Linked DNA regions of Homo sapiens. The protein of the gene in region 3 purifies or fractionates together with the protein of the main gene of each other region. This does not show direct contact. Each region holds a gene or a part of one and is shown on either strand. Other genes may lie near its edges. The genes, in order: FAM98A, KLHL8 and RACGAP1.

The links.
Region 1: the proteins of RACGAP1 (region 3) and FAM98A purify together in Homo sapiens (co-immunoprecipitation; 3 studies listed by BioGRID and IntAct, with this or other methods). This does not show direct contact.
Region 2: the proteins of RACGAP1 (region 3) and KLHL8 purify together in Homo sapiens (affinity purification with mass spectrometry; 2 studies listed by BioGRID and IntAct, with this or other methods). This does not show direct contact.

What each region holds. Positions count from the first base shown.
Region 1 is NC_000002.12:33,581,492-33,591,846, reverse strand, and holds the end of FAM98A (protein FAM98A), read left to right. Parts: intron 1-3,327; coding exon 3,328-3,512; intron 3,513-4,526; coding exon 4,527-4,607; intron 4,608-5,168; coding exon 5,169-5,285; intron 5,286-6,149; coding exon 6,150-6,317; intron 6,318-6,402; coding exon 6,403-7,071; 3' UTR 7,072-8,187; downstream 8,188-10,355. UniProt on the Homo sapiens protein: Positively stimulates PRMT1-induced protein arginine methylation. Involved in skeletal homeostasis. Positively regulates lysosome peripheral distribution and ruffled border formation in osteoclasts.
Region 2 is NC_000004.12:87,216,238-87,227,583, forward strand, and holds the start of KLHL8 (kelch-like protein 8), read right to left. Parts: upstream 4,382-11,346; 5' UTR 4,181-4,381; intron 4,032-4,180; exon of another isoform or gene 3,798-4,031; intron 1,951-3,797; exon of another isoform or gene 1,857-1,950; intron 1-1,856. UniProt on the Homo sapiens protein: Substrate-specific adapter of a BCR (BTB-CUL3-RBX1) E3 ubiquitin ligase complex required for The BCR(KLHL8) ubiquitin ligase complex mediates ubiquitination and degradation of RAPSN.
Region 3 is NC_000012.12:49,986,308-49,996,355, forward strand, and holds the end of RACGAP1 (rac GTPase-activating protein 1), read right to left. Parts: intron 8,203-10,048; coding exon 8,107-8,202; intron 8,023-8,106; coding exon 7,824-8,022; intron 6,349-7,823; coding exon 6,243-6,348; intron 6,071-6,242; coding exon 5,938-6,070; intron 5,827-5,937; coding exon 5,691-5,826; intron 4,486-5,690; coding exon 4,377-4,485; intron 4,037-4,376; coding exon 3,961-4,036; 3' UTR 2,855-3,960; downstream 1-2,854.

The DNA.
Region 1 (10,355 bases), on a different chromosome or scaffold from region 3:
CAGGCCGTTGTGCTTCTCCTAATGTGATCACTGGTAGTTTTGGAGTGTTGCTCAAGTGTGTGATCATTAAACTTACATTTTAGACTAGAAGCACATTTTTAAGTATATTAGGAAGATAGTATGGAAATAATGGAGATTTTGTTTAGAAATTCATTTCTTTGAGGAGAGTAAGCATTTATAATAGTAGATACAGTTAATGGTTAATGTAATTTAAAGTATTTTGTCTTGTTGCTATTTCTTTGTGGTTGGGTAATTGGGGATTTTGGTTTTGTTTGTAAATATTCTGGAATAATACTTGCATTGTTCTGGTACTTATTCTGAGAAATGAGTTTTTATGAAAAGTTCTTTCCTTCCATGTTTTTTACATACTTACTACTGTTTTGTCTCTTCACACTGAAAAACAGTAAGTAGATTCAAAAATTTTATTGCCTTCTATAAACTTTCCAATAAATACAACCTATAGTCTTAACTCAGAATTTATGTAGCATTCTGAAGCACATTTACATTAAGCTTTGGTTAACTGGCTATTATAGTTCTCATTATGACAGACAATTCAGAGGATTTTTAAAATCTTTGTTTTTACAACTCTATTATGGTTTCTGAAAAAATTATACAACTTCAGTTTTTAAGGTTCTGTTAAAAAAAAAAAAAGTGTTCATAGCCATTATACTTAGGCACTAAGTTATTCCAGAATCACTTTTGTAACTTCCCCTTTGTCTGTCAAATGATTGTTATTGTGGGAATGTGCACGTAAGGTTAGGTGTTGCTTTAGATACTGATATTGCTGCTGGTAGTTCTTACATATTCATTTAATATTCTTCATATTGTACAATTTCTGTAACTGATTCAATAGCAGTATACTCAGCTGATTCTTCCTTTATAGCATTGCTTATCCTTTACCAATATTTGGCACTTAGAATATGTTATCTACATAGGAAGATAATAGCTGTGTGGAATGCTTACTAATGACCCTGAATAGCTAATTCTTCCAAAGAGCTCAGAGTTTGGCCTTTTTAGCACTGATACTTATACAAACCACTTGAATGTAAGTATAAAATGCCTTTCACACTTTTCTGTTTCTTAAGCAGACTTCAGTGAACATTATTTTGGACTCAGGGTCATAATTCTAGACTTTATTTTAATCTGCTATCATCACCTCAAATGCTTTTCAAGAATATACCACTATTTGCTCTTCAATTAAATGACTAAATCATCTAGAGGTCACTCACTTTTTATATTCTTCATACATACATATATACACACTGTTTCCCTCTTTATCTTTGCTTCTGCCGATTCTCCCTTTCTAAAATATTCTCCCCAGTTTGTAACCTCTCTTTCATTCTAGCATTTACCTACATGTACTCATTTTTGACTTGGTCTATGTAAATATTTCTCATCTTTTGAAGTATCAGTTGTCACATCTGGATGCTATAATTTTACTTTTCCAGCACCCTTACCTCACTAACTTGAATCTTTTATCACATTGTATTTTAGGGGGGAAAACAAACCAGCCTCATTAGAATTGTTGGAAAAATAGAATAGCCTTTGAGTGAGAGGCTGAAAAGCTCTCATGTATCAGATTAAGGACTCTGTTTGGCTCTTCATTGGCCTTTTATGGTTCTCAGAGTGTTGCCCTTACGTAAATTAAGTAAGATGTCTGAGTTCCTAATAGATGAAGAACTATTCATCTTTTATTTTTGCATATACTCTTTATTCCTAACTAGATTATCGGAAGAGGTCATCTTTTTGATGTTTTAAAAAATGTTATCTTCAGTGCCTTTCCCAGTGCTTTGAACATACTGATTACGATTAAAGTTTTTTCATGATAATTATATTGGTAACCTAATTTTGTGAATACCTGAACTATGTTATCCCAAATTTACAGAACCAATATATTAAATCATATAGTATATGATTTTCTAGAACAAGAGTTGGCAAACTTTTTCTAAAAGGGCCAGATAGTAAATATTTTTGGCTTTGTGGCCCTAAGTTCTCTGTCACAACTACATACCTTTGCTGTTACAGCATGAAAGCAGCCATAGACAATATATAAATGAGTGAGTGTGGCAGTGTCCTAATGAAACCTTATGTACAAAAACAGTGGTTGTTGTCTTAACAGTGGGGTTTTACTGTTTTGACGTTTTAACTCATAAATACAGTTTGCTGTATGGAACATGTTAAGATTTTACAGTGTCAAATCCATTTAGAATGACCTTTCCAGAAACTTAGCTGTATTTATTGTTTTAGAACAGGAGTTGGCAGCCTTTCAGAAATGATTTGCCAAAATTATGGCCTCTGTCCTTCTAGCATTACATTTTGGGTATAGGAAATTTGATACACAAGTTGACTTTTTTCTACTTCTAATAGGACCTGAGGGCCTTGAAAATATCTTTTCCCAAAACTGGTTTTGTTATATTGTCAGAAGAATCTCACTTTGTCACATAACCAGAAATCCTAAGATTCAAATGATTCTTAATCATCTTTTATAAAAATTGAAATGTCCTTGGGAATGTTAAAGGAATGAGATTGAATATTTATACCTTCAACTGAATTACCTGAAACAGATTGCAGCCCCCATTATACCAGGCTGAAATCAGCACACAAGGGGATGATACTGACACAAAGGGAACCATGCCAAAAAGTGCTTTGAAGGTTTTATGGTTGTTTTGAAGGGAATGGGGTGAGGAAAGTAGGGGGAAGGGAGTCCTGAGAAGAATATAGATGAAAGAGGGCTCTCTTTGATTAGCCAGAGGGCAACATAAGATTTGGAGACCATGGGAAAGGAGCTCTGGGGTGCCTTCCTGCTTCTCCTGTGAGTTAAGCTTTGACTTCTTATAAATGTTGTTTCACACCTCTTCTGGACAGGCTCCTAATTAATGGGAGACAAGAGAGCAAGGTAGTTGTGTCATTGATGCTCACAAGTAGTGAGAAGTTAAAAAAAAAAAATTAATTGTCATTAAAAATTGGTCACCTGCCTTCTTTTGCAAAATTTTTAACAGATGCCAACCCCTGTTCTGGAGGTTCCTTAATACCAGAATTCAAGATTCCAAATTTTTAGATGTTACTTACCTCGATCCTTCGGTTTCAAAGAGAATCGCTTATTTTAAAATTAACATTTAAACATTATATATCGCTTAAATAACTGAATTACATAACCAGTTTATTTCTTATTTCATTTGCAGGTAAAAGTAGTTTTTCTTTCTTGTTTTTATCCATTCTTGCAGCTTTAACAGTTACATATCAATAGGTCTATATAGTTGTGACTCCAGACTTATGACTATAACTATAGCTGTATCTCATTTTGAAATCTTATTTTGTTTACTTCAGCATACCTCATCTCAGAACTAGAAGCTGCCAGAATGCTCTGTGTGAATGCTCCTCCAAAAAAAGCTCAAGAAGGAGGCGGTAGTGAGGTCTTTCAAGAGTTGAAAGGCATATGTATTGCTCTAGGAATGTCCAAACCTCCAGCCAATATAACTATGTTCCAATTCTTCAGCGGGATTGAAAAAAAAGTAAGACCTTTAGTACCAAATTGTAGTGTATTAAAGGCATAGTCCTACATTTGTTTGAAATGAAGCAATTAATTTAATTTCTCTTAATGGGAACCTAATGTGCATATATTATTAAGTAATTGTTACGAAATGAGTTTTGGGTTTTAAATCCTAGATGCCTTAAAGATAAATTAGTATTTTAGTATTTTCCTAAAAACATGTTAGCATGTTTCTTTTTCAAAAAGGAAACTTTACACTGGTTTGTAAGCTAAAGTAAGCTAGATATAATGTAAAAAGGATTAAGATTTCAGTCCTTTTAAAAATTATTTTATCATTGAACTTTGATACAGTCAATTTAAGTTCTTTATCACTAAATGTTACCACCCTCCTCCCCATTGACTGGACAGAAAGGATATTAATATTTTTGTTTTTTAATCCAGTCACTTCAAACCTCATGCTTCAATTGACAAAATAGATTTGTTGACTGCTAACATAATCTAGTATGTGAAAAGAAATTAGAATTATTTTTATACCACACATTATCAGTTAAGATTTTCTATATAATTAATTAGGAACAAGCAATTTTAACAAAAATGAGTAGAAGAGAACGGTATTTGTTAAAGCACAGTTATTCCCTATACGCTTATCTGCTGGACTCTTAAGAATTGGTACATTTGCATTGTGGGGTAGACCAGCACCATGATGCACAAATTTGGCTGAACTCTACAGGGGAGCAGCAGTGTATCCATAGTCCATATTTTCCTGTGTGTTCATTCATCCATTCAGCAAATGTTCATTGAGTGCCTACTGTTGTCAGGCACTGTTCTAGGTGCAATGAAGGACTTCTGTAGGCGTGAGGAGTGGGACCAGTGAGTGTCTTTATCTTGTGGGTCTTTTACATTTGCATTTCAAAACATCCTCCACCTTTGCCTCTGTCAGGAATCTTCTTTTGATGGCAAGATATGATGGGAATTGGGAAGATGAGGATGTTTTACTTTTAGAGTTTTTATTCATTTATTTATGTTTTTGTGTCAGTTAAAGGAAACATTAGCAAAAGTTCCACCTAATCATGTGGGAAAGCCTTTACTGAAGAAGCCAATGGGACCAGCCCACTGGGTGAGTAGTAATCATCTTGAGTAAACTTTGTAAAGAACTATAGAGTTTATGATTTTCATGTCAACACTTACATTTTGTGCTTTTTAAATTATGTTTTCTTATACATAGTTTTCTAGTTGAACACCCTTAGAATCATTTTGTGAATCTCAGGATTTCTGCAGAATATTTTTATTTGTGTAAGATTAGAAGCACTTTTCTCATACTTTGTAAATATTTCACACAGCTGATAAAAGTAAACTGAAATTAAGTATGGTGCATGTTTCTCGTTGCCAAATGGATTGCCTTCAAGCCAAAAACTTCACTGGGCTGAGCTTCACACAGTAAATTATGGGAAAGATAAATAAGAATTGTGTACTTCACATACTCTTCATTATGTTTTGTGAATCAGCTTTTTGTCACCTATCATTTCATTAATTGTTAGTATATTATATGGAATAAGAACTTTTGACTGTTAAATGGCCGGGATCTCAGTTATGAATGACACAGACGTAGTTTTTGCCCTTTTGGGACAGAGAATCAAGCAGATTTAAACTCTAACTAGTCTTTTTAATTTTGCTTCAGGAAAAGATAGAAGCAATTAACCAAGCCATAGCCAATGAATATGAAGTCCGGAGAAAGCTGCTAATAAAACGTTTGGATGTCACTGTACAATCCTTTGGCTGGTCTGACAGAGCTAAGGTACACATTAAATAATTTAAAAGAGCAGACTATTTATAGACATGATCCCTGAACATCTAAACAATTTAGCTACTTGGCAACTATGGGAGAAGTACATAGAAGACACACATAGGGATTTTTCCTTAGTGAGTTATTGAGTAGTGGCTCTTTCAACTATTCAGCAATGATGAAAACATTTATTTTTCAATTTTCTATTTTTTAACAAATCTGAATTTTACAGTTCTTATTGGAGAGAGAAGTTCTTATTATGAGAGAAATGGAGTTATTCTGAAAATTACTAAAATAATAAATTGATTTCAAATTACTTGTTTACTTTAAATAATTTAATTTGCTAATAGAAGTTAGAAATATTGGATTTGGTATGATTTATAGACAATTGGAGAATTTGGTAAGACTTAAGTTTTTTTTCAGCTAAATGAGACAATCCAGGTAAAGACCTTGGTCATTCAGCAGATAGTTATTACCTCATAGAAACCAAAGATAGGAAAATTAAAAAGCAAAATTGTTGAAATAGCTTTATATTCTTATATTTAAATAGAGAAAATGAGTATGTTTGATCTGAGACCAATGATGGGGGAACCTTTTTATCACGTTGGCCTCATAACCCTAAAGGGGCACCCTCTCACTCCACCCCTGCCCCCACAGTCCCTGTCACTCCTTGTTGTGTCAACAAGTCTGGCAGCTGTACTTTTAAGGTAGTTCTTGACTATGTAGGAGCAGTAGTGAGTATATAACTTTTCCTACCATCTAGAGCCTAGTAAATATCATTATCAGATATTTTGGAGACCTTTAACTTATTTAATATGTGTTTCTTATGTCATTTTGAAAATTGACATTTCTCTTTGAACACTTTTCTTTCAACAGAGCCAGACAGAAAAATTAGCCAAGGTTTACCAGCCGAAACGTTCAGTCTTATCCCCTAAAACTACTATTTCTGTTGCCCATCTTTTGGCTGCAAGGCAGGACTTGTCAAAGATTTTAAGGACAAGCAGCGGCTCTATAAGAGAAAAGACTGCCTGTGCCATCAATAAGGTGATTAGAGTACCTTTAATTTTTTCCAAATGCATTTATTTCTGTTCATAAAATAAAAGTTTAAAATATCTTTCCTATTCTGTAGGTGTTGATGGGCAGGGTGCCTGACAGAGGTGGTAGACCCAATGAAATCGAACCTCCACCCCCAGAGATGCCACCGTGGCAGAAGAGGCAAGATGGCCCCCAGCAGCAAACAGGAGGCCGAGGAGGAGGGAGAGGTGGCTATGAACATTCCTCATACGGAGGACGAGGAGGTCATGAACAAGGAGGCGGGAGAGGTGGACGTGGTGGCTATGACCATGGTGGCCGAGGGGGAGGAAGAGGAAATAAGCATCAAGGAGGCTGGACAGATGGAGGGAGTGGTGGAGGAGGTGGCTACCAAGATGGTGGTTATCGAGATTCAGGTTTCCAGCCAGGTGGCTATCATGGTGGCCACAGCAGTGGTGGCTATCAAGGCGGAGGTTATGGTGGCTTCCAAACATCTTCTTCATATACAGGAAGTGGATACCAGGGTGGTGGCTACCAGCAGGACAATAGATACCAAGATGGCGGGCACCATGGTGATCGTGGTGGTGGTCGTGGTGGGCGAGGTGGTCGTGGAGGCCGAGGTGGTCGTGCAGGCCAGGGAGGAGGCTGGGGAGGAAGAGGGAGCCAGAATTATCACCAAGGGGGTCAATTTGAACAGCATTTCCAGCATGGAGGTTATCAGTATAATCATTCTGGATTTGGACAGGGAAGACATTACACTAGTTGAGGCTACCGAACCTTACATTTTGCTAGAGCTCAAGTAATAGAAACTTAGTTTCAGAATCCTGAATTCAGCACCTATTTTGAATTAATGTGAGACCACAGGTGGCAGGCAGATTCCTGCTTGGCATAAGCATTTGTAGGTCTTCATTCAATTCTGTTAGATTTTTTTATTGGACTTACATAATGCCGTTTATTTGAGAAACACATAACATCTCTCCTTTCTATGAAAAATTTTTTAAAAGGTGGTTAAAATTGCCTTTAATTGCCCAGTAGACTAATTCCACAGTCAGAACATGCAAACTTTTTTGAAGAAATTACTTGAATAAGTAGTTTTCATGTTTTCAATATGCAGTTTTGAAAATGAGGATTCACCTAGACTTTTTTAGATTTACTACTAGGAAACCTTCCTCATATGAATAACCATTTATATGTGTTTTGCTTAAAGTATTCCAATGCCTATTTTCCAAGCACAGTTCTGCCCCCCGGTTGACTTTTATGCCACGTGTGCTTCATGATGGAACTTTTAGGTCAGTTCCTATTAAATGAGCTCTTTTGCAGATAGCACATTCAGTAGCCTTATTTTGTTGATGGAATACTGTATCATATGCTCAACTCTGAAAACCTTGAACACGGCCAAAATCCATAAAGATTATAAAAGCAAACTAAGTTGTGAAGCTATAGTACATGTAGGCATTTAGTTAAGTATAGCAATTCAAACTGACCTGCATCCATCCAAAACAAATTCCTCCTTCAACCTTATTTTTACTTGAAATTTGCTAGAAGAAATAGCAAACCGAAATTTGTTTTATGCATGAGTTAATACCACTGGCTCAGCAAATACAAGTTAGTTTGCTTTAAGCAGGTAACTTTTTTTGTAATGGAAGAAATGCACTACAAAGTTAAGACAGATTTTTGCTAAGTGCAGGAGGCCCTTTATTATTGCTGCAGAAAACAAAAGCCTGGCTGAGTTGATGTTTTACATTCTCCCTTACTGAAATCTACATGACATGATGCTTCTTGCTGGGTTTTTGTACATGTAAACATTGTCAAGCTGTGAAAGAAAATGGCTGGAGGTGTGCTTTGTGTGAAAGGTGAGCAATAAAGTATCTGTTAAGTTCTCTCTTTGGTTTGAGTTTTATTTTAGCTACTGAATTATTCTGGACTCTTGCGTCAAGCTGATGAGCTAAGGCTTTTGTTCCCAAAGATTCTTGAGTATTTCCTTAAAACCTAATTTTAGTGAAAGGTGACTTTTATCCTAAAACCTTAAATAAATGGAAAAATGGCTCTTTCCAGGTTTTCCTTTTATAATAATATAGCTAGAAACCGTCACCACTCATCTCTGGCCACTGGGTGTAGCTGTTGCTACACATACTAGGCAAAAATGTTTTTAGGGTTTTTTTGTTATTTGCTTCTCCATTCTTCCTAAGATTGGGGGACTTTTTTTAAAAAAGGAAGTAACTGAAAATATAAATATGTTTATCAAAAGAGAAATTGTATTTCCTTTCTACTAAATTGGGCTTTTTTAAAGAATCAACTCATGTCATGCCATTTAAAATAATCTACTTGCTACTGAGATAAGCACATTCTTCTAATACTAAAACCATCTTTGAAAACCCACATTGATCCTTTTAACTTTACCTGTTTATTTTTCAGCTAACATTTACAATTATTTTAAAATGTTCAAATTTGAAGACAATTTCAAGTGTTTTATCATTAAAGTAAGTTAAGGTTTTAAGTTGTCTTGAATGTTGTGTTGGTTTCTTTAAACTGTTAAGTAATTATGTTTATATAGGATTTCCTATTAAAATTGTCAAGGTTTCATATTTTAAATGTATCATATCTTAGGATGTATTTATATTTAGTATTTGCTTTGATCTGTTTTGTAGCCTCAGACTCCACAATATAGCTAATGAATACAGGTTTCATTCTTTTGAAAAATATTTTGATTTATCTTTACGGTTAATAGATTGCTTTTTCGAATATAAGGATGTAAGAACACAAATGATACATTTCGCCCTGATAGTTCTGAAATCTGCAGCTCCTGCTTCAAACTAGATTTTCCCCCAACATTATTATTTTTTAAAAAACTTCTATGTTCAGGGGTACATGTGAAGGTTTGTTATACAGGTAAACTTGTGTCACAGCGGTTTGTTGTACAGACTATTTCATCATCCAGGTATTAAGCCCAACACCCGAAGGTTATCTTTTCTGTTCCTCTAGTTCCTCCCACCCTCCACCCTCAAGTAGACCCCTATCTGTTGTTTCCCTCTTTTGTGTTCATGCGTCTTCATCATTTAGCTCCCACTTATAAGTGAGAATATGTGGTATTTGGTTTTCTGTTCCTGTGTCAGTTTGCTAAGGATAATGGCCTCCAGTTCCAGCCTTGTTCCTGCAAAAGACAGGATCTCATTCTTTTTTATGGCTATATGGTATTTTATGGTGTGTACATGTACCACATTTTCTTTATCCAGTTGGTCATTGATGGGCATTTAGGTTGATTCCGTGTCTTTCCTATTGTGAATAGTGCTGCAGTGAATATATGCGTGCATGTGTCTTTATGGTAGAGTGATTTATATTCCTCTGGATGTATACCCAGTAATGGGATTGCTGGGCCGAATGGTAGTTCTGCTTTTAGCTCTTTGAAGAATCGCCATACTGATTTCCACAATGGTTGAACTAATTTGCACTCCCACCAACAGTGTATAAGTGTTCCCTTTTCTCTGGAACCTTACCAGCGTTTGCTGTTCCTCCCCCGCCTCTCCCCATTCTGAAACCATAAAAGAATTGAGTTTTTTCTCTTGAACATAGATCAAGTTCTCTAGAAACAGGATATTTCAAACCACCAGTTAGTTTTATTGTTATATTAAAGTTCTTAGGTTTTGTATAGAGAGTATCTTTTGATCTTATATGCATTCTTAACCTTAACTTGTAAATAATGATTTACTGGAATATAGGGCATATGAGAATTTCTTGGAGAAACAAGCGAAAAATATTAGGAGAGAATTTTTAACATGATATCTTAAACTGTTATCTCTTAAAACGGATACAGTGAGACAGACAGTACCTTTAGTTAATGTTCTGTTTCCTCCTACTACTAGGAACTAGAATAGGATGTCAGTATTCTCTATGAAAACTATTAAAGATATACCACTATCATTTTTATTTCTTGCTGTAGATCCAAACTAATCTAGTGTCCAACTGTGGTAGACATAGAATAGGCAAATTCTTGCTGAGGGAAGGCATTTGAATCATTTCTATATATACTTAATTGATTTCCCAGTGCCCAGA
Region 2 (11,346 bases), on a different chromosome or scaffold from region 3:
TATTATTCATATGAAGGTAGTGTATCATAAATATCAACTTCTAGCTTTGGAAGAAAAACAGATACTCAGTGCTTCAAAAATAGCCTGTTCTCTTTCCTTTCCGCAATATAACCTGTTTCTCTTTCCTTTCCACAAAAAACTAATTTTAAAAATAATCTCTAACATTTTTACTAAAGAAACCTGCCTAGATCATTGAAGCTAGTGGTTTCCTAAACCTTTAGTGGGAACAAGGTCATGATGCTCTTTTAATTTAATTTTTCCCCAGAAAAGTATAAATTTTCATTTAATTTCTCCCCAGAAAAGTATAAATATACAGAGTTCACAGACCCTTGGAAGACCATTTATGCTCACGCTAACAGATTCAGGTTAAGAGTCAGAGAGATGAAGTAGAAAATTTCCCAAGGTCCCTCCAACCCTCTTCCATAATTCTCTCTCTGACTCATAAGAACCAACTAAATCATTCATAACCAAACCAAACAATATACTTTCTTGCATGACCAACCCATTTAAAAAAAAAGCAGCTGACAGTATCTATATAGCAATATCCACCAGAAAATAAATTGTACTGGCAGCATTTTAAAATACAGCATGTGACTAGTAATATCAATGAATATTATAGTTGATTATAGCTTAGAGAATGTTTTCACATACAACACCAAATAATCCTCAATTCTGGTAAAATAGAAGTACGTATTATTTTTATCCCCCTTCCACAGCTAAGGAAAGAGGTTTAGAAAATTACTTGCCATGCTCACACAGCCAATAAGTGGAGATCTGGGATTCTAATAGAGAATTGTGTAGTACCAGAAGTGAGCTCAGAACAATATTATAGTCTGGTGCTTCCATAAAAGCTCCTCAAAACAGAGAAAACAGAATTTTTAAAAATAGACTAATGGGTGACATTTTTATTGCAGACATATCTTGACATGAGTAAACAAAAATTAATTTATTTAAAATGCTCAACTCCCTCTTGTTTCTTTGGCTAATATAAACCATTTTGTTCAGAAAAAAAAAAAAGACATAGTCAAGTGAATTTTAGCGACTGAAAACAACATTTTGTTATTTTATGAAACATTTATCCTCCCTCATCTCTTGCTTTTTTTGGGGGTGGGGGGAAATAGGGTCTCACTCTGTCACCCAGGCTGGAGTGCAGTGATGCAATCATGGCTCACTGCAGCCTTGACCTCCCTGGACTCAGGTGATCCTCCCACCTCAGTCTCCCGAGTAGCTGGGACCACAGGTGCACACCACCACATCTGGGTAATTTTTGTTCGTTTGTTTGTTTTTTTGTAGACACAGGGTTTCGCCGTGTTGTTCAGGCTGGTCTGGAACTCCTGGGATCAAGCAATTGGCCTGCTTTGGCTTCTGAAAGTGCTAGGATTACAAGCATGAGCCACCGAGCCTGGCCTCTTTTTTTTTTTTTTTTTTGGAATATAGAGAAAGGTCTCACTTTGTTGCCCAGGATGGTCTCAAACTCCTGGGCTCAAGCAATCCTCCTGCCTTGACCTCCCAAATTGCAGTTACAGGTGTGAGCTACCATGTGGGGCCCTTTAGTTCTTAATATACAAAAATAAATGTGACTCTTGGGAATTCCAATATAAGTAACCAAAAATTTAAACATTCAATTTATAAAACACAAAAACTATCTGAAATTAATGTTTAAGATGTCTGCAATAGTCTCTTTAATCTTTTTAAAATGACAATATCCATTTCAGTTCTCTACAACTCTCAAAAGTTCTTGATAAAAACAAAAGGGTTATTTGTCCAAACCCACAGAATGTTTAACACCAAGAATGAATCCTAACTGTGGATGTGATAACATGTCAATGTAGGTTCATCAATTGTAATATACGTACCACTCTGATGAGAGATTTTGGCTCTGTAGGGGTAGGCGATACATGGGAAATCTCTATACCTTCCACTCAGTTTTGTTGTGAACTTACAACTGCTCTAAAAAAGAAAATTCATTTTTCAAAATAGCAGGTGGGATCAAAATTTACCCAACTTTTTTTTTTTTTTTAGATGGAGTCTCGTTCTATTGCCAGGCTGGAGTGCAGCTGCGTGATCTCAGCTCACTTCCACCTCCCAGGTTCAAGTGATTCTCGTGTCTCTGGGACTACAGGCATGCGCCACCATGCCCAGCTAATTTTTTTGTATTTTTAGTAGAGATGGGGTTTCACCATGTTGGCCAGGATGGTCTTGATCTCCTGACCTCTTGATCCGCCCGCCTCGGCCTCCCAAAGTGTTGGGATTACAGGCGTGAGCCACCGCGCCCGGCCCTAACTTTCTTCTTAATGAATGAAGAAATACTGTTTTTAAAAAATAACCCTCACTGAATGTGAACTGAGTTTCTTGTCAAAAAATGTGCAATTATTACAGAATATATCATCTTAACCAATTATCAGTAATCTTATCAAATGCTAAAAGAATTGGCAGCTTTAAAAATTAAAATGATGAAGCTAAGTGCTCATATGTAGTTGAATAGAGTATCCTTAGACTTTTTTTTTCTTTTTTTGAGATGGAGTCTCACTCTGTCGCCCAGGCTGGAGCGCAGTGGCATGATCTCGGTTCACTGCAACCTCCGCCTCCCGGGTTCAAGCCATTCTCCTGTCTTAGCCTCTCGAGTAGCTGAGACTACAGGCATGTGCCACCACGCTCAGCTAATTTTTGTTATTTTTAGTAGAGATGGGGTTTCACCATGTTGGCCAGACTGGTCTCGAAAATCCTGACCTCAAGTGATCCCCCCGCCTCAATCTCCCAAAGTGCTGGGATTACAGGCGTGAGCCACTGCACCCGGCCCCTGAGACACCTCTTTTTATATTTAGGCTTACGCAATTTTGGTATCTTGAAAGCAATTTTTTTAAAAAGTGACGAAATAAATAAAGTGACTAAAAGTTTGAAGTTTGAACTGGGTCAGTTTGACAAATTAAGAAGGGTGCCAGGAGGAAGTCTGAGGAAAAGCAGCAGCTTAATGCCACCGCCATCTCCAAGCAGCGTTCCAGGCGCCAGCACTGTTAGCAGCAGTCCTCTGCGTACCCAAGAGTACCGCAGGGCCAGAACACGAGAAAGATGCGCGAAGAGGATTTCCTTCTAGAGAGAGAATAAAGAACACCAAGAGTCCAACAATTACCATCTTGTATAGGAGAAAAACAATGCAAAGGAAAAAACGTGCAACCAGCAGATAAAATACTTATGTCAACCCAGGTTCTAAGGACCTTTTCCCAAAGTATCCCTCTAAACTGGTAACATTAGCTTAGGGCAGAGTCAAGAAGAAAGTTATGCCATTAACACAGATGAAAATACTGAACGTTTTCTATGAAAAGTCACCCGATTAAACACTGCCAAGAGGGAAAAACAGTGCAAGTCCAGTAAAGCACGAGACACGTAGAAAATTCAAGCTATGTAGCCAAATCGCTCTCTCTGAAGAAAACAGCAAGCCAACTGAACCCAGCACGGAGTGGAAGGCGTAAAGAGCTGTCATCGTGGCGGTAACAACTCCACCGGGCGGCTGAGCGTCTAGAAAGAGGCTGCGGTTCCTGGTTCCACATCAGGAGGCACTCTCCACAAGGTCTACACCGCCGCTCCCGGGAAGGCACCTCCAGGGCGGCCAGCAAGCCCCCCGAGTGGGGACAGGCAGTGCCTTCCTCGCCTCGTCCCCGCGCGGCGTGGCCCGGAGGTGGCCCACTCGCCCCGCCCCCGCAGGCCGCGGCTCCAGGGGGCGTCCGGCCGCCCTCCCGGGGCCCCGAACCCGCGCCAGCCGCACCGCGCCTGCCCTCTTCCTGGACCCCGCGAAGCACCTGCCTGGGCCCCTCTTCGAAAGACTGGGAGGAAGGAGTCAAGGAGCTGCCGGGGAGGCTGACAGAGCCAGAGGCTGGAGCTCCCCTACGGGAGCCGGGAGCATAACCCTGCTCCTCCCGCCAATGGGGGCGACAAAAGCCGTGGAAGGTTGCTCAGGGGCTGGATCTCCTGCTGTCCGGGCCCCAAGCCCTCTCAGCTGTGGAGTTTCGGTTGGTGCACGAGGGCTCGAATTTCCTCCGCACACCGGAGACCCAAGACGGGACGGTGTTGCGACTTGGGGGCTGGGGTGAGGGAGGGCTCGGCGCGAGCGGACGGCACCGCACAAAGGAAGAGGGGACTGAGGGGAGACGAGGGGACTGAGGGGAGACGAGCGTCCCGTTACCTCGATCCTCGACCCTGTTCTTCCTGATGTCGCTAAGGTTGCAGCCACGTTACCACGCTCCCAGAGCCCCGGCCGCCCTCAGCGGAACCTCACCAACCCCGCGCGAGCACCCGGCGGACGCGCGCTCTCCTGCGCGGCCCCGCGGAGCCCCGGCGGGCGCTTGGCGTCCTCTCGCCTCAGCCCCCGCGAGCCGCGGCCTCTGGGGGCGGGGCGGGCTGGGCGGGGCTGCGCACGGCACTCTGGGAAGTGTGGTTCTCGGGACCTCCTCCCCGAGGCCACCCCCACGGCCTCGCCCCCGCGGCTCCCTAGTGGGCGGCCGGGTCTCAGGGACTGGGCAGTGTTGCCCGGCCTGGTGAAGGCGGACCAGGGCGTGGCGGAGGTCCCCATAACAAATCTTGAAATAAAACACTGCCTAAATACCTTTGAGCTTATCCATGCTTCACTTCTGCGGCGGTACAAAATTTAGTTTCTTTGTATGTCCATCAAATCCCCTTCTGCGGTTGTGAGTGTTCCTGGGATTTATGTCTTTGAAAAAAGAAGGGGAAAAAAAGGTTTGCATTTATTCCTGTGTCACTTTCACCACGTGCTCTACAAAGGATATACAAAACAACTGTGTTTATAAATACACACCCACAGTTTGTAAACCTAAGGAAGCAGTTGATTGACCTGAGAGCTCGCTGCTAAAAAGCAGTGCAAGTGGCCATGCGCGGTGGCTCACGCCTGTAATCCCAGCACTTTGGGAGGCTGAGGCGGGCGCATCACGAGGTCAGGAGTCGAGACCATCCTGGCCAACATGGTGAAACTCCGTCTGTACTAAAAATACAAAAATTAGCTGGGCGTGGTTGTGCGTGCCACCAATCCCAGCTATTCGCAAGGCTGAGGCAGGAGAATTGCTTGAACCCGGGAGTCGGAGGTTGCAGTGAGCTGAGATTGTGCCATTGCACTCCAGCCTGGCGACAGAGCAAGACTCCGTCTAAAAAAAAAAAAAAAAAAAAAAAAAGCAATGCAAGTAAAAGTGCTGTTGAAATGAATTAATTTTTCTATAATGTCAATAAAGTGGAATGTGTGAGGCGGGAGATCAAGAGACAGCAAAAAAACAAAATTTTTTTTAAAGAAAGATATTCCCCTAAATGTGTCTTTTGCCAGACTAACCTCAAACTTTCACAATCCTAGGAGTCTATTTCAGAATAAATTTAATCCTAGGACCTTTATTAATATTAACACATATGAACATTAGCACATTGATTTTAATAGAAATGAACATATATATATCTGTATATATATATGCATCTTCTATAAAAACCCCAAAGCAACTATTTGAATTTGAAATTTTATTTCTAGAAAAAAAATCACATTTTTTACATTGAAATATAAATAATTCTTAATATTTCAAAATATTCCTCTTTAGAGCATTAGTATTTTGCACATTTAATGCAAATACCTTTAGAAAAATAGAGTAAGATGAGTTTTAAAGAAGTATGCAGTGAAGAAAAGTCATAAAATGTGTCTGGAACGTGATGTAAAAATTGTTGGGACTCAGAAATCGATACCCCAAAATATGGTGCTTTGCCGCGCTGAACTGAGGAAGCAGCTTCAAGGTGTCTCTTACCTTCCCCATTACCCCTCCTGCCTCTCAATTCTTTGTCTCTCCCAAAGCACCAAATGATGTCGTTCTCTGAATTTCCCTTATCTGCCTAGAAACTAGACCTGCCAAAGAGGAACATATTTGCCTTACCTGATTTTTCATTTACTTAACTCATATTGGAGGAAGAAAGACTGAAGTCTGTCAACACTCTTGGACAGACTTTTGTCACAAACTATTGTCTGCTGTATGGGCTCAACACACTTTTTCCCAGGCCATTGTATGTTCCCCATTTTCCCCTAAAAGTCCTTTACTATACCTTAAGTTGCCACATTTCCCCAATCTCCCTTTCCCCCATAAAGAAGAGTATATAAACGTCTCTACCCCATTGAGTCATTGGGTAATCATTCTCCTGAAATCTCCCTGTGTTATGCACATTAAAATAAATTTTGTATGTCTTTTTTCCTATTAGTCTGCCATTTGACAGTTGATTTTTCAGTGAACCTTCCAAGGGAAAAGGGAAAGCTTCCCTGTATTCCCTTTATTAAACATAAAACACAATATGTATTTTATTTATTTATTTATTTTATTTTATTTTTTTGAGACGGAGTTTTGCTCTTGTCGCCCAGGCTGGAGTGCAGTGGCACAATCTCAGCTCACTGCAACCTCCACCTCCCAGGTTCAAGTGATTCTCCTGCCTCAGCCTCTGCAATAGTTGGGATTACAGGTGTCTGCCACCACGCCCGGCTAATTTTTGCATTTTTAGTAGAGACAGGGTTTTACCATGTTGGCCAGGCTGGTCTCGAACACCTGACCTCAAGTGATCCACTCGCCTCAGCCTCCCAAAGTGCTGGGATTACAGGCATGAGCCACCACGCCCGGCCTACAATATGTATTTAGTAAGACCATGTTAATAGAAATTTTGTTTTTTATAGCCTAAGCTTTTATTTTATTTTATTTATTTTATTTTAGAGACAGAGTCTCACTCTGTTGCCTAGGCTAGAGTGCAGTGAGTAGCACAATCATGGCTCACTGTAATCTTGATTTCCCCGGCTCAGGTGATTCTCCCACCTCCCGAGTAGCTGGAATTACAGGCCCACACCACCACACCTGGCTAATTTTTTTGTTTGTTTTGTTTTGTTTTGTTTTGTTTTGTAGAGATGGGGTTTCTCCATGTTGCCCAGGCTGGTTGTCAAACTCCTGGTCACAAGGGATCTGCCTTTCTTGGCCTCCCAAAGTGCTGGGATTACAGGTGTAAGCCACCATTCCTGGCCACTTTTCTTGTAATAAGGTGCACAGTAACTCCTAAAAATGCTTATAAAAAAGAGCACAACTGCTCTTTTTCTTCTGCTAATTGACATATACACAATAAACTATTTGTAGTTACTAACAAATCAAAGAAATATACACAATATTTCAATATTATTATCATCTATTTATCGAAGAACATTTTTTGAGCACCAGACACTGAGCTAGGAACTGGGAAATACGCAGTAGACAAAATTGAATAGTCCCTGCTCTCATGGAGACTTAGGATCTAGACTCGGAGACAGAGAATTAAACAGTGAATAATGAAAAGGTATGCATGGGGTGGCCAGGGGTTTGGGGAGCACCTAAGATACACCTAATCTAGAGCCTTTTATTGGGGCAGAGGAGTCTGGCAAAAATTCTGAAAATTAAATGAAATTTTTAAACCAAATAGCTATAAACTGGGGCAAAAAAAATCTTTCCCTAAAAAGTGATATATCTGTAACAATGCTCTCAAATAATTACTTAAAAATATATACAGTATCTTACAAAATAAGACATACCTCAACTAAAACAAAACACACATTTCCTAAATCGGACGAAATGTCTTCTTAGTTTTTACCCATTCCTCCCTAGCTCCATTTGAGAATAAGCAAGACTAGCCTATAATAAGTAAGGATCTAAGAAATTCCTTCCCTTCCCTCAAAGTCCGATAAATTAAAACTGGAAAGGATCTGATAGCTGTTTGTTCATTTTATGATTGTACTTTAGTCAGAAAAAAATTGCAATATTTTAACCCCAATCAACATTTGCATTTTTTTTTTTTAAATTTGAGATGGAGTCTCGCCTTGTTACCCAGGCTGGAGTGCAATGGCACGATCTTGGCTTACTGCAACCTCCGTCTCCCAGGTTCAAGTGATTCTCCTGCCTCAGCCTCCTGAGTAGCTGGGTTTCGGCCTCCCAAAGTGCTGGGATTACAAGCATGAGCCACCGCGCCGGCCAACATTTGCATTTTAAGTCTTTATCTTTAATCCTGGGATAAAAGGCTTTATAACCATCAAAAGAATTTCAGATGTGGGCTGGATATGGTGGCTCATTCCCTGGATGACAGAGCCAGACAATTTTTCTTTCTCTTAAAGGAGTCGGGGAGCAGGGAAAGAATTTCAGATGTGGCTTGCCGAGGGATTTGGAAAGATTAATGAAGAAGGTTATTTTATCTTCATTTGCTAGGGAGGCAAAGCTTGCAACCAGAGAGCAGGTCCCAGAAGAGTTGCTAAGGTTCTTTGTCTATGGAAACGTACTTAAAGAGCCTGAACACCGCCAGCAAGACCACTATCTTCCTGTCCAGGTCAGGGTTACTGGCTTGCAGTTACATTTCATCCCAATCCTTTGACTCCTATCCTGTCACCCTCCTACAAAACCAGCCTTTACTGTGGCACTTCAGCTTCCCTCAACAATCATTTCCCGCCTTTTATCCTAAGACACACATGTGGATGGCTATGTTTTCTGACCTTAGGCTGGTGGCTCAACTTGTGCTGTTTTAATAAATTAATGACAGTTCTTCCATCCACTACCATGCAATCAGCCTGACATAGGTATCTCTAAACCTTTGCTGACCATTTTCTGATATATTTCTCTGATATATATTGTTGTTTTGTTTTTGTTTTTATTTTGTTAAAGAGATGGATGGGGTGGAGTTTGGTGGGGTGCGGGGATGGGGGGATTTTGCTATGTTGCCACGGCTGGTCTTGAACTCCTGGCCTCGAGGGATCCTCCTGCCTTAGCTTCCCGCCTTAGCCTTCGGAGTGGCTGGGATTACAAGGCTCAAGTCACAGCACCCAGCATCCCTGAAATATTTAAAGTTCCCAATTTTTCTGTGGGTCTTTGTAATTGCTGTTCCTTCTACCCCTTTGCCTGGTGAACTCTTTCTAATCATCTAGTATTAACTTAGAAAACTTTTTAATTAGGAAACCTTTCTTGGTTACAGTCCCCCCTCTCCAGTTTTGGGTTACTGCCTCCTATATATGCTCATCTTACAACTTATTTTTGCCCCTAAAGTAGCACTTAGTGAGCATTTTAAGAAGTTGTCTATATCTTTCATTTGTCTGAAATCTCCTTAAATAGAAAATAACAGCATAGTACTTGATGTATAGATGCTTAATAAATACTTGGACTATAAATGGATGCATATCAACTTTGCTCAGTAAACAACCATTCGGTAACTACTTCCTGCCAAGGGCCAGGCAGTAAATATTTTAGGGTTTGGGGCCATAAGGTCTCTGTTGCTTCCTAAAGGACAATAGTCAAGTCTCACTGGTGGCTCCAAAATATCTATATAAGACAGAATTTGAGTTAAAACTTGGAATGAAAGGAGTAGGGGTGCAGCTCTGGGTTAGAGGACATTACTTGAAGATATCTTTACAGGCACACAGTTATTGTTTCCACTGAATATCTATTTTAGGTAGTTTGGGGGTGGGTCTGTGGGTGAAGCTAAAACAGAAAGCATCATCCTTGCTATGACCACTGCTAGTTCTGTTGGTGCTCTAAATCATTTCTTTTGAAAATTACTAGTGCTGGTGACTTTTGAAATGCGGGTGTTGTTGTTTTTTTGTTTTGTTTTCATTTTTAGCATTTTATTTTTATTACTCCATCATACCCAAGTCTAATCAGTTTCCATTTCCCATGAACCTGCCTAGATAGGGTTGAATTCTCAGGCTGAATATGTGGGGGAACTGTGGAATTCTCTCCGGAGCAATATGAGAAATGACAGAATGAGAGCAATTTGCCTCCATCCCTACCACATTCAAGAACTGTGACTTTAGTTACCAGAAAAAAACACATTTAGAGAAACTTTGATTTTCAGTAACTATTTTTGAAACATGTGCCACATACTTCTGAGCAAAATTGTATCCATATGTATGGTAGAAATTGGCACAGTGAAACAAATGTAATTGTGTTTCCATTGCAATTTGTATTCCAAATGTACGATGTCTGTGAAAAGTACTTCTTTCATTAAGATATAGCTCTATATTAGGCCAGGCGCGATGGCTCACGCCTGTAATCCCAGCACTTTGGGAAGCCAAGGTGGGTGGATCAGTTGAGGTCAGGAGTTCAAGACCAGCCTAGCCAACATGGTGAAACCCTGTCTCTACTAAAAATACAAAAATTAGCCGGGCATGGCGGTGCACGCCTGTAGTCCCAGCTACTTGGGGGCTGAGGCAGAAGAGTTGCGTGAATCCAGGAGGCGGAGGTTGCAGTGAGCTGAGATCGCGCCACTGCATTCCAGCCTGGGCAACAGAGCAAGACTCTGTCTCTCTCTCGCTCTCTCTCTCTCTCTATATATATAAATAATATATATATTATTTATATAAATAATATATATTACTTATATAAATAATATATATATTACTTATATATAATATATATTATTTATATATAATATATATATTATTTATATATAATATATATTATTTATATATAATATATATTATTTATATATAATATATATTATTTATATATAATATATATTATATATATAATATATATTATATATAATATATATTATATATAATATATATTATTTATAAATAATATATATATTATATATAAATAATATATATTATATATAAATAATATATATTATATATAAATAATATATAATATATAAATAATATATATATTATATATAAATAATATATATTATATATAAGTAATATATATTATATATAAATAATATATAATATATAAATAATATATATTATATATAAATAATATATATTATATTTCCTTTCTGATATCATCTTCACATTCTCATAATAGAGTCAATCTGAAAAGTTTATTTTTTGATATGAAAATAAATGCAACATGGCAGACCCTACTAGCTGCTTAAGCAGCATCTTTTTGCCTTCTTCTTTAGAAGGAGAACTCCAATATTGTTAGCAGGATGGCTGAAAGCCCAGCTAAAAGTGCAACTATTGCACAGGACTTTGGGGATGGCTGCTTAAAGGAAACTAATCCAGTTTTAAAGTATCTCTCTCGTTTTTCTTTCTTCCTGGAAGCGATGGCTTGAGTTTTAGTAGCCATCTTGGACCATAGAGTTATTTGACACTGGAGACGGGGCACCACGGTTCATGCCTGCAATCTCAGCACTTTGGGAGGCCCAGACAAAGGAAGCTTGAGTCCAGGAGTTCGAGACCAGCCTGGAGAACACAGCAAGACTGTGTCTCTACTAAAATTAAAAAGAAAGAAAAAAATTAGCCAGTGGTGTTGGTATGTACCTATAGTCCCAGCTATCTGGGAGGCTGAGGTGGGAGGATCCCTTGAGCCCAGTAGTTGG
Region 3 (10,048 bases):
CATGCCAGGCATAGCAGTGGGGCCTCTAAATGCTTTTCCAAGAGGAAATCACTTACCAAGTGTAATGTACATATGTGTGTATGTATGTATCTATGTATTATTCCGTTCTCACACTGCTAATAAAGACATACCCAAGACTGGGTAATTTATAAAGGAAAGAGGTTTAATTGACTCACAGTTCCGCATGGCTGGGGAGGACTCAGGAAACTTACAATCATGGCAGAAGGGGAAGCAAACATGTCCTTCACATGGCAGCAGCAAGAAGTGCAGAGCAAAAGGGGGAAAAGCTCCTTATAAAACCATCAGATCTTGTGAGAACTCACTATCACGAGAACACCATGAGGTTAGTAATCATCCCCATGATTCAATTACCTCCCACTGGGTCCCTCCCATGACACGTGGGGATTATGGGAACTACAATTCAAGATGAGATTTGGCTGGGGACACAAACCATATCAATCTATCTGAAGCTAGATAGGTGTGCAGGTAGACCCTACCATAACAAAACAAAAGCAGCAAGCCTGGTATCTTTGCTCCCTGTACTCCCTCAGCTCTCCTTGTCATTTTGTGCTGCCTAATAATTTAAGCATGCAAGAACTGGCTGGGCACAATGGCTCATGCCTGTAATCCCAGCACTTTGTTGGGAGGCTGCAGCAGGAGGATCACTTAAGTCCAGAAGTTTGAGACCAACCTGGGCAACATCGTGAGACCCTGTCTCTATAAAAAATTTAAAAATTAGCTGGGCATGGTGGGGCATGCCTGTTGTCCCAGCTACTTGGGAGGCATAAAATAAATAATAAAATAAAAAGAACACAAGACCAATTTCAATGCCACAGGCTCAGTTCATAACCAAAAATGAGTACTTTTTTCCCCTGGTAAATCAATTGCGCACCCTAAATGTCCTCTGACCAAAACTCACATTCCTTCTTCTATCTCTGCAAGCAATGAATTCACCCTCTTAAGGAAGGATAAGTTGTTAAACACCCAGTAATAAACTCAAATTGTTGCAGCTGAATCCAACCATGTAATGCTTGCCCAGTTAGATAAACATCAAACTAGGGAGTCTTACATAGATCAGGGAGAATAAAGGTAAATATCACAACTTAAAGATTCTGTTTATTAGCAAGTGCGATAGTAAAATTAAACTGCATTAAAAGAGAGGAATGTCAGAAAGGGTTAGGAGTAAGAGATGGACTGATGGCTACTCCAAAGCACTGGACCCCCTTCCACAGCCCTCACATTGAGGAGGTATAATTAAGAAGGCCCTGGAAAGTCAGGCTGTTCCGCAGGAAGTACTGTTAAAGAAGTTGAAGGTGGGTATATATTTCCCTTTGCTATTATCAGAATTATTTTCATGGCTAAGGTCTCTTGGCCTAGCCCAAAAACTGAGCAAATGGTTGCCAACATTTGACACACAGGACCATTTCCTTTTTCGTTAATGGACCATTGGTTCCTGCATAGGGTAGCCTTGCCTTCACTAATGTTACACAATCCATTTACTTCCTCTACATTAGTGACTGAAAATGCACCTTGGGGAGATACTACAGAACAGCAAATATGGAACCAGGCCAACGCTAGGATTGCAAAGACATAAGAAAAGAGGTAGCATCTAGGGCAGTTTTAAAAAACAAGGCCTAGCAGGCGTGTGTGAAAGGGGGTATGGGACCCATCCTCTGTCAATTTGCTGAGGCAGATGGGCCCTGCTGTGAAGCTGCCCCCTCCTGGGAAAAAAGCCAGTAGGTTGCCTCCTCTCTCCACAGTTACATATTAAGCCTACAACTGTTTACGTTCAATCTCAGATACATTCTGTTCACCAGCTTCAGAGTTCCAAGTGCAGGTGCCCTCAGTTAATCATCCCAGCTCACTCCAAAGTCACTTCCAGCAGTGAAGGATGTTCTAGGCAGTCAGCCAGCCAGAGGCAATTTTTTTTTTTATCTGCACCATTCTGGTCCCTAAAGACTTGTTTAAAAAGTTGTTGTTGTTGTTTTATTTTTTAAGTACAGTCACACACTACATAACGTTTTGATCAATAAGGGATCCCATATACAACAGTAGTCACATAAGATTATAATAACCATAGTTTTACTGTACCCTTTCTATGTTTAGATACATAAATACTTACCATGCGTTACAGCTGCCTACAGTGTTCAGAACAGTCACATGATGTACAGGTTTGTAGCCTAGGAGCAATAGGCTATACCATACAGCCTAGGTGTGTAGTAGGCCACACCATCCAGGTTAGTTTAAGGACACTCAGGTTCACACAACAATGAAATCACCTAATGAAGCACCTCTCAGAATGTATCCCTGTCATTATGCAACTCATGACTGTGGTTTCTTTAAACAAGACAACAGGCATAGGACAACTCTACAACTCCAGTTTGGACAAAGAGAGACTGGATGAGAAATGAAGAAACAAACTCCCGGTGGTGGTAAGCCTGGGGTGGGTCCAGAGAGTGGGAAATGGGGATGAACAACAGAGTCAAGACACTTTGAAGGAAGTAATTTTTTCTTTTTTTTTTTTTGTGACAGGGTCTCACACTCTGTCACCCAGGCTGGAGTGCAGTGGCACGATCTCAGCTCACTGCAACCTCTGCCTCCCAGGCTCAATTTTCCCACATTAGCTTCCCAAGTAGCTGGGACCACAGGTGTGCACCACCACGCCCAGTTAATTTTGTATTTTTTGTAGAGACAGAGTTTGGCCATATCTCAAACTCTTGACCTCAGGTGATCCACCTATCTTGGCCTCCCAAAGTGCTGGGATTAGAGGCATAAGCCACCAAGCCCAGCCCCAGAAATGATTTTCTAAAAGGCATTGAAAATTACCTTGCAAGACAAGAAAACCAGCCTCATGTTCATTTTGAAAAAGCTATTTACTTTTTTTCCAAATATTATCCCAAATAGGTGTTTTACAGATAAGGGTCAATACGAAGTCAAACATTCTACAGAAGAAAATCGTTTTTACAGACATTAAGAATAATTTTAACAGAAGAAAAAGCTCACATCTATCTAGATGTGGCTATGTTCCATGGGAAAAATTTCAGCATCCAAAGTGCAAAGAAAAAATGACTGTAGCTTTTCTTACCACAAAATATTGACAATCTTCCCTTATAGCCTACTCTTTATTGTTAGTTGGGATGCCAAAGGATGATATATTGACCTTTAGAAGTTGGGCTCCACTGGACAAGGTTGGGGGTATGGGGGCCAAGCATCAGAATGAATTCAATTTTAAAAGAAAAACTGGCTTTGACCCCAAATGAACCCAAAGTTCAGCCAGCAGCACATCAGAGATAAATACGAGTTGTACTTTCACATTTACAAGGTTGTGCCACTCAACACTATTAAAGACCTAATCATCCAAATCAAAGCTACGCATACTCCCATCACTAGTTCTGTCCTCAATGCATCCCATTTTTATGAAAGCTCCATATTATAGCTCAGTTCATAATGGGGAATGAGAACTTCTGGTTCTTAGAAGGAGGCATCCTAAATCCTCTGGTCTAATCCTTTCTTTGCCCTGCCCTCCCACTTCCCACCCTGAGACAAGCTAATCTTATCAGATAGGTAGGGTTTCTGTCATTGTCTCACGGAAATCAGTTCTAAATGAAACTAGAGAAAGATCATTCTATGAGCAGCATTTGGCTTTAAGCCAAAGGAACAATAACCCCCTTCCCCAAAAAGAATCACAACCAATTCCATACTAACCCTTCTACCCCTGGAAAGATGTCTCATCTAAAAGCTCCCAACAATGACCAGCACAAAGTGCTGATATTATGTGACTTGAGGAGAAGGAAGGGGAGATATATATAGTTTTAATAAAACCCTCATGCACAATTAAACTTGAGTAAAAGCCTGGAGAATGCTAAAAGTAGTAATGAGTACAGGAGGCTGCAGAGCAGAGTACAGATGTGTCCTTTCTTATAGTCAGTCAATGCTGGGAAGTAACAGGCAGATGTGACTTCACTTGAGCATTGGAGAAGCAAAAAAGTTGCCTTGTCGTCCTAGGTTAGTGGCAGACTTGCTTTTGCTCCCAAATCTACAATAAAAAGAGAATGAACTGGAAAAATATTCTATAAAAAATGGTTGAATAAACAACTATAATATTACTTGATATAACCCATTATAAGTAGGAAACCCTAGACAACTATTTTGCAATAGTTGCTTAAGTATTCTTAGTCACCAACAACGAGAGAGGGGAAATAGTAAAGACTTTCAGAACCTTTTTAAAGAAGGAATCCTTATAGCCCCACGTTCCCTTTTAAAGTCTAGTTGCTAGCTAAAATCGAATGCAATTTTTCTTTCAATAAGCTTCAATATAATAAGAAGTCTAAGAAAGTAGTTGTTTTTTATTTCCTAGGAAGGCCAATTCTGCATACCTAGGAGTGTTCTTGGTGAGGGTGGAACGGACTCTCTGTGACAGGGAACTAGATGAAGGAGTCTTGAGAAGCTGATGTTCAGGAGTGGTCACAGGTCCCAGTAAACTCACTTCAAAGTTCAGACATATTTTTAAGAGAGGTGGGAAAAAAGAAGGCATCTTTTTAGATGGCTAGTTTTAAGCTGATTACCCTCTGAAGCACTTAAGAGCTAAGGTTAGACATCTAGCAAAGTCCCAGAGATCATTTTTGTCATCATTCTGTAACACACTAGTGTATCTTTTGAACTCAATGAATAGCTGACACGTCCTGATTTAGGCCATTCTCTAACTCCACACTTCACAAATCTAACATCTAAACATCTGACTTTTAGCTATACTAGAAGAAGCAATATGCTCCCTTAGAAGGAACTTGCAATAATGAAAGAATGGGTCTCCAATGCCAGTGAGACTGGAGTGAAACCAGCCTATTCATATAAAATTGTTGGTTAGCAATATAAATTGGCAAAAGCCTATAAGAAATTTAATAAATCAAGTTGGTAAAACATACCAAGACACATAAAAATGTTCAAGCCATTTAATTCAGTGATCCCACTCTTAGGAATTTATCATTAAGAGAAATGCTATATTGACTATAGCATTACTTGTAATTATGAAAAATTGAAAAATAATGTTAATACCTACTAGAACATTTAAGTAAATGATAAATAAGATTATACATGAGAAAAAGTTCTCACAACATGCTAAGTGAAATAAGAATGAATTATATTTAAACTATTATATATATATATATATATATATTTTTTTTTTTTTTTTTTTTTTTTTTTTAGACAGAGTCTCACTCTGTCACCAGGCTGGAGTGCAGTGGCGGGATCTCAGCTCACTGCAAATTCCGCCTCCTGGGTTCCAGCAATTCCTTGTGCCTCAGCCGCCCTGGTAGCTGGGATTACAGGCATGCGCCACCACACCCAGCTAATTTTTGTATTTTTAGTAGAGATGGGGTTTCACCATGTTGGCCAGAATGGTCTCAATCCCCTGACCTTGTGATCCGTCCGCCTCAGCCTCCCTCCCAAAGTGCTGGGACTACAGGTGTGAGCCACCATGCCCAGCCTATTATATCTATATTTAAAAAACATATATCCATATGGATAAAGAAAGGAGAACATGGAAAAGCAAAAAAAAATTACGATGGTAGAATTATACAAATTTTCCTTTAATGTTAGAATTTTCAAACAGCTCTAGCAAAGGCAGGAAGAGGTCATATGACTAAAACTAAAGAGAGAGTCAAGTCCCTGAAGAAGCACATCTTGGGCCTTACCTTTAATATCTGGTGTCTGTGGTGTTGAAAAGGCATTTGAGTTTTCAATGACATGTAGGGGGTCAATGTTCTCTTGCTCCACCATCATGAACTGACTCCAATACTCCAGAGGCAAGGAAAGCAGGCGCTCAACCACCTAAAAGCCAGCAAATCTGTTAGCAAACTTCCAAAGCTCAGGGCTTCTCAACTGTCTTTCAAGTTATCACATTACACAAGTTCACATACACACACACACGCACCTGCCTACCTTGGGTTGACGCTTGATGTCCTGTAACATTGTCACTGGGTCTGGATTGGGCACAGCATGGGCCACTATTGTAGGGCCAAAGACTTTAGCCAGATTGGCAACATCCATTTTAGTATGTGGACTCTGAGCCACTCTAAGCAAAAGAATATTAAATTAGAAGTCTTGCTCCTTGCTTAAATGCAGACCAAAATATAAATTCTATAAGAAAACAATTCATCCCTCATACTCCCAAACACTCAACCCACATTATCTTCCCCTTGGAAAAAAATTCCCTAACTCCCAGAACAAGTTTCTGCTGTACTCACCTCTGCAAGTGAATCATGAGGAAAGCTAATGTGTCCCTGTTGGCCTGGGGCAGTTCACCAACAGCTTGGTACATGGCAGCTATGCTGTTGTCTTCATCTGTGATTTCTGTAATTGAAAAGAAAGCACCAAGAGGCCTAGACTTCTTTCCCTTGACAGCGGGCTTCCAAGTTATCGACCACAAAGTCTCATCTATACAGTAAGCTTCTGAAACTCCTGATTAGTTCATGACTACATCAGACTCTAGTTTCATTAACAAGCAGGATACTGGCCAACAGCTCAATATTAGAAGTCAAAACTTTTAAAAAATCGGCCTTTGCAGTTAGGGAAAGCAGTTGGCAACTGATGTGCTAGGCAGACAGGCATACAATTGCAGTGACTACAATTACCAAGAAGGTATTCATTCATGAGACATATTTAAGGGCCTACGATGTGCCAGGTACAAGTGCTGAGGATAAAGCAGAAGTAAACAAAGCCCTTATCTTATGGAACCTACATTCTATTGGTGGAGTCAGTCAAAAAGCAAATACCTATCAGGTAGAGTGATACATAAATGAAGAAAACAAGGCAGGCAAGAAGCTAGAAAGAAATGAGAGCTGTTAATCTAGACAAGGTTGTCAGGAAAGGTGTTTCTGGGGACAAGGTATATGAAGAGAAATATGAAAGAAATAAAGGAGCAAACCATACTGTATCTAATGTAAGAGCATTCAGGTTGAGACAACAAATGTGAAGGCCTTAAGGTAGGGAGTAAACTTGGTATATTCTAAGAATTGAAAAAGCTCCAACCTAACTGGAGAGGAAGGAAAGAAAGGAAGAACACTGTACACAATAACGTAATGAGAAAGCAAGAGGATAGGCAAGGGTGACACGCATACAGTTACTCATCCATCAAACTACTTGAGCACCTACTATGTTTCAGGCATTGTACTAGGCAGGAGCTAATAAAAAGAGGAAGGTGGCCAGGTGTGGTGGCTCATGCCTGTAATCCCAGCACTTTGGGAGGACAAGGTGGGTAGATCACCTGAGGTCAGGAGTTTGAGACCAGCCTGGCTAACATGGTATAACACCGTTAACGCCTGTAATCTCAGCTACTCAGGAGGCTGAGGCAGGAGAATCGCTTGAACCCAGGAGGCGGAGTTTGCAGTGAGCCGATAGCGCCACTGCACTCCAGCCTGGGCGACAGAGAAAGACTCCGTCTTAAAAAAAAAAAAAAAAGAGGCTGGGCACGGTGGCTCACGCCTGTAATCGCAGCACTTTGGGAGGCCGAGGCAGGCAAATCACAGGGCAGGAGATCGAGACCATCCTGGCTAACATGGTGAAACCCCATCTCTACTAAAGATAGAAAACATTAACCAGGCATGGTGGCACACGCCTGTAATCCTAGCTACTCAGGAGGCTGAGGCAGGAGAATCGCTTCAACCTGGGAGACGGAGGTTGCAGTGAGCTGAGATTGCGCCACTGACTTCAGCCTGGGCGAGAGTGAGACTCTGTCTAAAAAATAAAAAATAAATAAAAAAATAAAGAGAGTAAGAAAAACTACTGCCGTGGAGGAATTCATATTCAAGTATTACATCTGCCCTTACCTGCTGCTTCCATAAAGGCTCTGTTAAGGCGAAAGGTCAGAAGAGGTTCTTTGAGGTTTCGAAGAAAGTCTTTTAGAAGGCTACAGATAGCATGGATATCATCCACTTTGCTGAGGAGGGGTACAGTTTTCACTCTGAGGAATTTCTCTTTCAGCTCTTTTACTGTGCGGTCACAGCCAGAGATCCTATACAGGCCTGTCTATTATCAAGATGACATTTTTATTTAAAAACCTCCGAATTAACACAAATAACAAATTCACCATCTCCTACAGTTGACTCTTACCTCAGTCAGACCTCTTTGCTCAATCTCATTTACACAATGCACAACAATGGAGGGGATCATTGGAGAAGTCTGGGACACAAAGTCTGCCAGCATTCCCTGGAAAAAAAAAAGAGCTTTAAATTATTATTTACGCCATGTAGACCAACAGATGAAGACCACATGCGAAGAACCACCTCCAATCTTATTCTCAAACTGGGACATCATGTCTACTTTTACATTCCTATTCCCAAAGCATATATTAAAACAGAGACTCTCAATTATTTTTCCTACCTCCACACCAGGACTGATTTATTATCATATATACCACACTTTTTCTTTTTCATATATACACCACACTGTTATGTGAACAAGGAATAAGACCACCAGCTATAATTACCTCCTTCTCATCCACTCAAGGACAGCAGAAAACAAGCAATAATGAGGTTACAGGTATAGCCTTTAATATAAAATAATTTATTACTCTAAACAGATTTTTTTTTCTAACAGAAGAAAGCTGGAACAAGAGAAAAAAATTGTGTATACTTTCATTATTCTCAGTAAAAAAAATTATTTAACATATCTTATCAGTTGATTATGACACAAACCTACCTGTAGGGGAGAACTCCATGGTTCTATATTAGAGTACAGAACATGTGTAAAAAAAATGTACAGGCGGCCAGGTGCGGTAGCTCACGCCTGTAATCCCAGCACTGTAGGAGGCCGAGGTGGGCGGATCACCTGAGGTCAGGAGTTCGAGACCTGCCTGACTAACATGGAGAAACCCTGTCTCTACTAAAAATACAAAATTAGCCAGGCATGGTGGCGCATGCCTGTAATCCCAGCTATGAGGGAGGCTGAGGCAGGAGAATCGCTTGAACCCAGGAGGTGGAGGTTGTGGTGAGTCGAGATTGCGCCATTGCACTCCAGCCTGGGCAACAAGAACAAAACTCCCTCTCAAAAACAAAACAAAACAAAACAAAACAAAACAAAATGTACAGGCATGGATAAGAACTTGTAAGATCAGGGGAAAATAATATTTGATTTGCTGAAGAGTAGGTAGGAAGATAGTCATTTTGATTCTTGCTAATGTTACTTACATAATAATTTTTTTTTTTTTTGAGATAGGGTCTTGCTCTATTCCCCAGGCTGGAGTGCAGTGGTGTGATCACAGCTCACTGCAGTTTCAACCTCCCCACCTCAAGCAATAGTCCAACCTAGCCTCCTGAGGAGCTACAAACACAGGCGCACACCACTAACCTGGCTAACTTATTTATTTATTCTTTGTAGAGATGGAGTCTTGCTTTGTTGTCCAGGCTGGTCTCAAACTCTTGGGCTCAAGTGATTTTCCTGCCTCAGCCTCCCAAAGTGCTGGGATTACAGGCATGAGCTACCACACTCAGCAATAAATAATTTCTTAATGGATTTAATCAGTTTGGATTAAACTGGTTAAATATTTGGAAATAAGCAACTTCATTTTGATAACCTATTATGAAGTATGTCTAACATAAGAGCAAGAATAAAAGATAATTTTATCACAGATAAAATTATATGATAGCTGAGATTTGCTTCCAAGTAATTCATTGGACAGAGTCAGGAGGAGGCAACGACAGTATTGATAAATCAAGAACAGACATAAAGGCTGGGTGCCATGGCTCACACCTAGAATCCCAACACTTTAGGAGGCCGAGGCAGGCGGATCACTTGAGGTCAGGAGTTCAAGACCAGCCTGGCCAACATGGCAAAACCCCGTCTCTACTAAAAATACAAAAAAATTAGTTGAGCATGGTGGCACATGGCTGTAGTCCCAGCAACTTGGGAGGCTGAGGCATGAGAATCACTTGAGCCCAGGAGACAGAGGCTGCAGTGAGCCAAAGTTGCAACACTGCAATCCAGCCTGGACAACAGGGAAACTCTGTCTCAAAAAAAAGAGAGACATTAAAAAAAGAATGGACATGACCAGGCG